2 separate regions of the Homo sapiens genome follow, and region 1 is linked to region 2. A link means that fine-mapping ties the variant in region 2 to the plasma level of a protein whose gene starts in the linked region. Region 2 holds a variant in brackets. A gene starts in the other region. All regions are shown on their reverse strands.

Region 1 (4,390 bases), not on the chromosome of region 2:
GAGGGGCAATAAAAAAGAGAGAGAAAGAGACCTTACAAGACAAAGAGAGGCAAGGAAGAGAAATGAGGTGGTATAAAAGGGACCCCTAGAGACAATTTCAAAAGATGTGCTGGAGAGCAGACAGTTATTTATTTGAAGTCTGCAGCAATGTCACTGAGACTGCTGAAAATGAAAGAGAGAAGGAAACATTTCCACTCAACATTACTTTTTAATTGTTTATTCCATAGACTAGAAGTTAATTGACTTTTCTCTACATCCATGGTTCTGGGCCTCAGTTTCCTCATCTACAAAGCAAGGGGTTTGGACTAGATACCTTACAGGGTCTCTGCCTAACTTGATCCTCTCTGTCAACCTATGAGCCAGGGACTCCAAGACCAAGCATTTATCAGTTTTGATACCTAATTCCCCCCTTTTTCCTCTACCACCCCTCTTTATCAATGCAGTGTCAACACCTGCACCATTCATCGAACTGATGCCAATGCTCAATGATGACAGGGAGTATGGCTCAATTATGACAAATGATTAGTCCTTCTGCCCTGGAGTAAGGAAAGAAGGAATAGACAAGGCAGTATGATTTATACTGTGGATTTCCAATGAGAGGTTCTTCTCGAATTTTCAATTACAAATTTCATCCATTTAAATAAATTATAAATTCCTTTGAGGGGTTCCAAATGGTTGGACTGATCAAAGGGCCAAAGAGCCCTATTTGATGGCCCCCACACCCGATTTGAGGGAAAATTTATTTCATTTCATCCCCAAAATTGGATTTGCTTATTTCGTGGAAATCCAGCACGCACTAGCCATGCTTTTTTCTCATCTTTCTGCCTCATGCCCATTCTGCCAACCTGCTTCAGTGCAGCATTTTCTGGGGTTATTAAATACCCAAGGCTTAATGAGAGTGCATTCAAAAGTAAGTTGTTCAATGATGTAGGATCACCCCCTACTCCCCCCCACCACACACACACAAACACACGTAGGCAGTTTAAATGATAGTGGGGGTAAAATGTGTTTTCACAAGAGTTTCATTTTAAATTTGTCTCAACCTGAAATTCCTTTAGAAATTAAAATAAATATTAATATGTAGAAATAAAACTCCCCAGCTTTTCTTGCCTTCAACTGGAAAGTGATACACAAATAGTATGTACTTAGTGTTCTCCACAACCACCAACAATTCTATTTTATTTTAGTTTCCAAAATACGGACAGGAGGGCAACTCTAGAAAAATGGATTCCCACTCTGGCATCTCACAGGGCACTGATCAGGCAATGCGGAGCACTCATCATTTCCACCATGCAGGGAGCATCAGCCTCTCCTCGCTCCTTCCACGTACACATTCTTGTACCCCTGAGGGTATTCATCATTCTGATTTCCACCCGGGGTTTGACCTTGCAAAGACCCTTCTTCCAGTTTCTGGGCAAGGAACAACCCATTTTAACTCAAAACACAAAACGACCTTTTATCCTTTAAAGAAATACTACCAAATGTAACACACCTTGATTTACATTTTTTAACCCCAGATTCCGGATGGCGAACACGGAATGCAAAGGCAGGTAACTAGTTTGGGTCTGACAGTCCCCATTCAGCGACCGAGCCTGTGACTCCGTTCAAAATCGACAGTGCAGTAGAGCATCTTTCCCTTTTCTGCCCATTCACCATTGTGACAAAAATCAAAGACGAAAAAAATTATCTACTCATTTCTGAATACTGAGAGAAATGTGCTCATTTTGCGCCTGACTCCGTGGATCTTAAACACTAACATCCCGCTCAGAGATCAACCATGATTTCCATACCAATCTCATCCACTCAGTTTTACTTAGCAAACACCTTTGCTGCCCTTCCACAGTGAGAAAAATGGTGCACCAATCCCACGGATGACAGGTTGCTACTCGACTGTACCCGCTCAATAGTTTTATCAGCAACCGGAAAACTTCACAATCGGTCAATTAGCTACTTAAATCTGTCTAAGACAAACTAAGAAAGCATCTCAGTTTCACCTGTCTTAAATCTAGTCTAAGACAATCCCCCAAACACGCCGCATATAAACACTCCCCCTTCCCCCACCCCCAATATTCCAAAAGATCCCCCATGGACTAAGAGCACATTCAGATCGCCAGCATTAAGCAAGGAAATTGTCCCCATGCATTTAGACGCATCTATGCAAAGCAAAGTATGTGACAATAGCCAAAGCATTTCTCTGACAGTTGGTTGCACTACACATGCAGAAATGCAACGAAGATTGTATTTTCCACTTACAGTTACAGCGCTGCGCACGGTCACTTAACGAAAATGATAAAACTCAACAGTTCTTTTTAAAAATATATATTTAATTCGGGTAAACGCTTAAGCCGTCTCTGTGTGTGGTTCTCTCTCGCTCTCTTTTTCTCTGGAGCTCTGGGCTGCTTAAATCCCTCTTGGATCGCGCCTTGCAAGCCCAGCCGCTGCCGCAACACGCTCGGGTAAATCTCTGCTGCAGATTGGGAATCCCATAGAAAACCTAGGGTCCCTGGAGCTGGATGCGCAGGCGCGCGAGCCTCCGCCTCTCCAGGCACCCCCTCCCCTTTCCTCTCTTCCCTCCCCCCAGCTCCGCAGCCCCAGCTAGGAGAACTCGGGAGCCTGTGACCAAAAGCCGCCTGGCGATGGCGCATGCTCAGTCGGAGGGGCTCGGAGTTTCCGCGGGTGGATTCCACGTCTCCAGATTTTAGCAAAAGCTCAAAAGGAAAGTATATAGGAAAAGGGAGTCCGGCTACCGGAGCAACCCGCACCTGGACGGGCGCGAGGGACTGCGGGTTACCCGGACTCGCCACGCCCAGTGGTTACCGAACCTGGGGGCTGAAGGCCGAGGCCAGAGATGGAACACGTGGAGCCGCTTTTCCCGCTGCTTTCTGTCCTAGCCGACCCCCGGCCCACCCTTTGTTAGGCTGTAAGGTGAAGGAGAAAACTGCAGAAATCTCCGAAAGAAGACTTCCCAGCAAGCTGTGAGCACGTCTACCTGGCTTACTGAAGGAACGGTTATGGTGGTCATTTTGTCATGGGCCATTTCATCAGAGGGTCTTCTGCTAGGAGTACTGGGAGCCGGGTCCTGCAGCACCCAGTGCCCCGGACAGTCTCGGTCCAGAACGGCGTTGAAAAAATGTGTGTTAAAGGGAGCTGGGATCCGAGGCTTCTTGCCCTGTGTACCCTGAGCCAAGCGCCTTCTGTATGCACTTAAGTGTTTTTAACATATGCTTTGCGTCTGGGGTGGGAGGGGGTGGGTGAAAGGGCGGGAATGAACCATTTTGCGAACCCACGTTTAAGGGCTCTGATTAGGCCATCTTATAAAGCCCCCTTTGTGTCCTTGAACAACTAACAGGTTTGCCAGCCCTCCCCCCGGCTCCCCATTGGCCTGCCAAAGCCTAGAAGGCTTGGCAAGGAGTAGTGCCCAATAAATGTTTGGTCGGTCGCTTCCCTACCAGAAAAGCAAGGAGAATTCCCAGATGTTCCCAACCAGACCAGTTTTCCTCAAGTGTGTATGTTGTACATGAACTCATTCAACAATTATTCATGGAAGCATTTGCAAAACTATTAGACATTCCTTTATGCTTTGGGAATAAGTGCGGTTAACAAAACCCCCTCCTGGGCTTTACATTCAGGTGGGAGTTTTATTTTCAAGGGAGGGAAGTTCTGGGGGCGAGATGAAGATCGAGGTTCTCCTTAAGCAGAGCGCTGTACAATTTGCACAGCGTCTTCACACACCTTATCATGTTCAGGAAAACTGTAGAGTTGACCTACCCTTCGGTGCTGGGGACACCAAGAGCGTCTCCCGTGGCAAATGAGCTCTAAATTGACAAATCTCCAGCTGCTCCTGGTTCCAAGTCGAGGAGTCCAGCTTTGAACAAACTTGAGACTACTTAAGTGGGCACCAGGAGAAACTCCGCCAGACAAGTCTGTGGCTGTCGACATGCTAAGTGAGGGCCTCAGGCAGTGATGCCTAAGCCTCATTCGCTGCCAACCTAGCCAGCCCAGAACCCAGGAACTGGCTTCCCGGGCAGGACGCCTCGGGAAGGTTGCGCAAAGGGGGAGCGCGCTCTCGGGACTCCCGGGACACCGCCCGCGGCTGTCCCCTCTCGGCAGGGCTCTTCCGCCAGTGCTGGTGACCGCGGAAACCCGGAGCGCGGAGTCGCGCGGACCACGGCGCGCGGCCCCGGCGGGCTGCGGCAGCCGAGCACGTTTAGAATCTGGCGGGCGCCAGCCCTTCGCTCTGGAGCCGCAGTGCGCACTGCGCTGCGGGGCTCCCGGGCGCGCCGGGCTGCTCCTGTTTCCTGGGACTGGCAGGGGGAGTCAGTCCTGAATAAGTCACTTTTTCTTTTTAGCTAGAAAAACGACTTTCAAAAGGCTTTCAAAATCTCGTCTT
Region 2 (4,390 bases):
AAAAAGAAAAACAGAAAAAAAAATCCTTAAGCAGTTATGTTGAAAAAAACCAAGCACTGAATTGTCCTCATTTAAAGGTAACAATCCTGTTTCTGGAGTGGGGGAAGCTGATGGCAAAGGCGTATTCTGGGTGACCTGAATCCAGATGCCCCCGTTCTGGAGTAGATGCTGCTTTCAGGGTGAATTACTTGGGCGTTCGGAGTCCCTGTGGGGCAGTTTCTTTGAAGTGTTTACTTTCTCCTCGGGTCTTCAGAGCCAGGCTGAAGAATGAACCCATCTAGGGGTTTATGTAAGGAAGAGGAGAATCTATGAGGAAGAACATAGGGAGTTTCTTTTAAGGAAAAAAATACATATATATATGTTGTCTTTCATTCAACTGATATTTACGGAAGCCCAATCGCATTCCAGGCATTGAAAAATACAGAATCCCTGTCCTCCCACAGAAGCTCACAGTCTAGTGAGGGAGAAACAAATAAAGATGCCGTTATAATCCAAGGTGAAGAATGCAAAGGCAGAGGCACACAGAGGGTGCCAGGGAGCTCCAGGAAAGTCCCAACCCCTGCCAGACACAGGTGGGCAGTAGGGTTGTGCAGCTACACCTATGAGCACTCCAATTTCCCAGGACCAACAGGTCTCAAGAACGTCTTTGTGGCCGGGCGCGGTGGCTCATGCCTGTAATACCAGCACTTTGGGAGGCCAAGGCGGGTGGATCACCTGAGGTCAGGAGTTCAAGACCAGCCTGCCCAACATGGTGAAACCCTGTCTCAACTAAAAATACAAAACTTAGCCAGGTGTGGTGGCGGGCGCCTTTAGTCCCAGCTACTCAGAAGGCCGAGGCAGGAGAATCGCTTGAACCCGGGAGGCGGAGGTTGCAGTGAGCCGAGATTGCGCCACTGCACTCCAGCATGGATGACAGAGCGAGACTCCATTTCAAAAACAAAAAAAACCTCCTTGAGTTTGTTTTTTAACATTGTGACTTGTAAAACCAGAAAGACCTCAGAATGATCGCCCTGTAATTTAACTTAGCTCACATAACTGACAATTTACTAATGTTTTGGGAAATGAATAGAAAATTCAGCCATTTCATTAGATTTTTGCTTTCTTAGCATGAATATGAAATGTTCATTTTCTGGAGCACTCGAGTCTCTTTGATGCTTTAATGATTACAAAAATCCCAAGGATTTTAATATATACAATTTTCATTTAACTAAATAAATACGACCTCAGAATATAGCTTCCAATTCTAAATCCCAAAAGGCTGAAAGCCGTTAGCAAAAAGGCAGTGAGGAGGAGGTGGGCATGGAGGGAGGAGGGCCTCTCCTGGGCTCTGCCTGCGGCCACACCCTACACTCTGACACACTGGCCCCACCGCCCCCCGCCAGAGGGCATTTGGCTCCTCTGCTGAAAGACAGTTATTCCTGAGTGTTGCTCTGGGGAGCTGGCTTTTATCTCAGGCTACAAAATAAGTTGTGATTTCGTTCCTCTTCATAGCTGTCTAGTAACATCTAAAACAATGAATGTCACTATATTTTGCAACATTTTTCATGTCTTGACCAACACATAGGTTCATTTTTTTTTATGTGAATGAATTACTGAATAGGTAGATAGACAAATGGACTGGAGTTTTTGGTAAGGAAGGAAAAGGAATTTATGAGGCAGGTGTCAGGGGTAACCGAACCTGAGAAAAATTTGGGGGAATCACAGGGCAGTATGTGAGTACCAAATGTCTAGAGGAAACATGGGGACTAACAACAAAAAAATCCAGAGGGGAGAGAAAGAGAAAGGAAGTAGGACATAAACCACAAAACAGAGGCAAAGTGTATCATAAATCTCACGCACCCATCATCAGCTCCAGCAGTATATATAAAATATAAAATCATCTTAAATTCCAGAGAGATTACATTCTCTGAGCACCTCCAGGACAGAAAACATAACCTTGCAATTTTTTGTTGTTGTTTAAAAAGTGTATTTGCTAGAGATTTCATCAATCTTGC[TTCA/A]GCTTTCAGCACCCCCTAACTTTTTTCCTAAAGTGCTTTGAAGCAGATCCCACGTATCACATCCTATTATTTTGCCCATAGCGACTTCAGTAGAAATCTCTAGCAAATACAGACCCTTTTTAGACAACAAGAAAAAATTGCAAGGTTATGTTTTCTGTTCTGGAGGTGCTCAGAGAATGTAATCTATGGAATTTAAAGATTATTTTATATAATCTGGAAGATGAAAAGGAAGAAGTATGCCCAAAAATGTTCATAGTTTTATTGTAGCCGTCCCCAAGCTGAAAGGGGCGATAAACTAAAGCTAACAGCAGAGGAAGGGTCATAAATCATGAAACAGCCACTTGATGTGATGTCATGTGTTCATGAACATTTGTAGTTGTAAGAACTACGAAGCCACACTCACTGCCGGGGGAGGTAGGGGGGTCCCAGCGCACGGCCTCACTGCCCTGCAGAGCTAGAATCTAAAGCATGTGGCTCTACCTCCCCAGCCACCCCTGATTGGACCAATATGTGTCCACCTGAGCTAGCAACAGCCAATCCACAGGCTGAACAGAAACCTCTGACTTCTATGGCCTCGCTGGATGGAAATGATAAACTGAGACAATCAAATAAGAGTTTGACTTTAAGCAGTCTGGAAAGAGGATCATTGAAAGCTCTGGTACTGCAAGGTCATGTGGCTTGTAGTGGCCACTACCGGCCATGCACTACTGAAGTGATGTGTGCGGAACAGAAACGCAGGGTAAGCAGAGATCCCCCCGCCCACCCAAGGCCCCCGACAGCAGCTTCAGTAGCTGTTGGCTCTCCCTGCCCTAGCACCAATTCCTGGGGAGCTTAGCCAGCTTAGGCGCCTGTCCTTGGTTTCTCTAAGATTAGGCACGTACACACAACTATTTTCTGAGACAATTTAACTTGACTGAGTAAATCTTCCTTGCAACCAGAATAGTCCTCAGACAAAAGCGTTCACAATATAATGTTGAGTGAAAGAATGCTGCATTTTAACTATGCTGTATTTATAGCCTCATGAAATGATGGCATAAAATTAAGAACTAAAAGTGAACAGAGGAAATGAAGGCAATTAATGTGTTAGCGTGGTGGAATTATGGGTAATTTCTCCCCCTCTTATAGTTTTGCGGCTGCTACTTACAGTGGAGGCCCTAAAACTTCAGACCGTAAAACCTCCTTCTAGTTCAGCCTGACCCTCTCGTAAGTCAGGTGTCCAAAGAAATAGGCTTCTTCTTCCAGCAACTACCTCAGACTTTGAGACCTTTCTGGACTATTATCCTATCCCACCACATCCACGGAACAGCTGAGATGTACTAGTTTGTGAATATAGGATGTGTTGTAGTTTAAAATTTCTCTATTAAAGTGATCTTTATTTACTACCAAAAAGGTTCTCTATACACTTTTCTAGGAGACATTAAGAAAGATATCAAGTAATTTAGAAAGTTTTTATTTTTATTTTTATTTATTTTATTCACTTATTTATTTATTTTTTTGAGACGGAGTTTCACTCTTGTTAAGCCCAGGCTGGAGTGCAGCGGCGTGATCTCGGCTCACTGCAACCTCCGCCTCCCGGGTTCAAGCGATTCTCCTGCTTCAGCATCCGGAGTAGCTGGGATTACAGGCGTGCGCTACCATGCCCAGCTAATTTTTGTATTTTTAGTAGAGACGGGGTTTCACCATGTTGGCCAGGCTGATCTCGAACTCCTGACCTCAGGTGACCCACCTGCCTCAGCCTCCCAAAGTGCTGGGATTACAGATGTGAGCCACTGTGCTTGGCTGAAAGTTTTTATTTTTGTAGTTGTCTAAACATTGTTTTATTTTATAACAGGTTTCCACCCCAAAAGCAATCATTTTCACCTTGGTAGTGAGAAACTACTACAATTTTTTATATTTGTTAAATATGGTCAACTTTCATGCTACAATCAATGTTTCGAGTAAACACAACATTCAAATAGACTCAAGAGTTCCCTAACACTTCCAGCAGAATAAGGCGATCTGAACTAATCATTGGATAATGCTAAGGAGCAGTGTGGTGGGAGGTACTGAGAGTGGGCCCAGCGCTAGCCCTGACCCCACTCATTAGCCACTCACTCCACCAGATCTCTCTAACAACTCTTCTAGGTCAAACATTTAGTCTTATAGTTTTGTATATGACAAATAAGGTGAGATTTTGCTGACAAAGAGGGAGTCTTATATCATTTTTAGGGACAATAAGCCACAGACTTATTTATAAGACCAACCCTGTAGATTGTTTTGTGTCTTTCTAAACCTTACCAATGTATATGTTATTTTGCAGTCAAATGTTCTACCCCCAAGCTATGCCCCCACTTAATTATTTTGATGTATATCTGGTTCCTTGGGGATATGTATATTTTACTCATATTCCATAT

Direction of the effects. Positions count from the first base shown, and alleles are read on the strand shown. Strength reflects both the effect of a copy and how common the allele is.
As copies of TTCA replace A in region 2, the plasma level of the protein whose gene starts at base 2,476 in region 1 goes up (strong association).

What was found. PIP is the chance, under the fine-mapping model, that this variant and not a neighbour inherited with it causes the effect. Protein levels are from antibody-based Olink assays in UK Biobank. Linkage for the fine-mapping came from a reference panel and not from the study's own genotypes, which makes the PIPs less certain.
Region 1: VSNL1 starts here. The variant in region 2 is fine-mapped to the plasma level of the VSNL1 protein (UK Biobank, PIP above 0.99).

What each region holds. Positions count from the first base shown.
Region 1 is chr2:17,538,782-17,543,171 of GRCh38, reverse strand. It overlaps VSNL1 (visinin like 1), which reads right to left and starts at 2,476. Exons shown (of 4, transcript NM_003385.5): 1 at 2,254-2,476. RefSeq lists an enhancer at 4,052-4,171.
Region 2 is chr3:195,563,975-195,568,364 of GRCh38, reverse strand. No RefSeq gene overlaps it. Among named protein-coding and RNA genes, the nearest start is that of APOD, 18 kb to the left of the region's middle. The variant TTCA/A (reference allele first, on the strand shown) is at 1,995.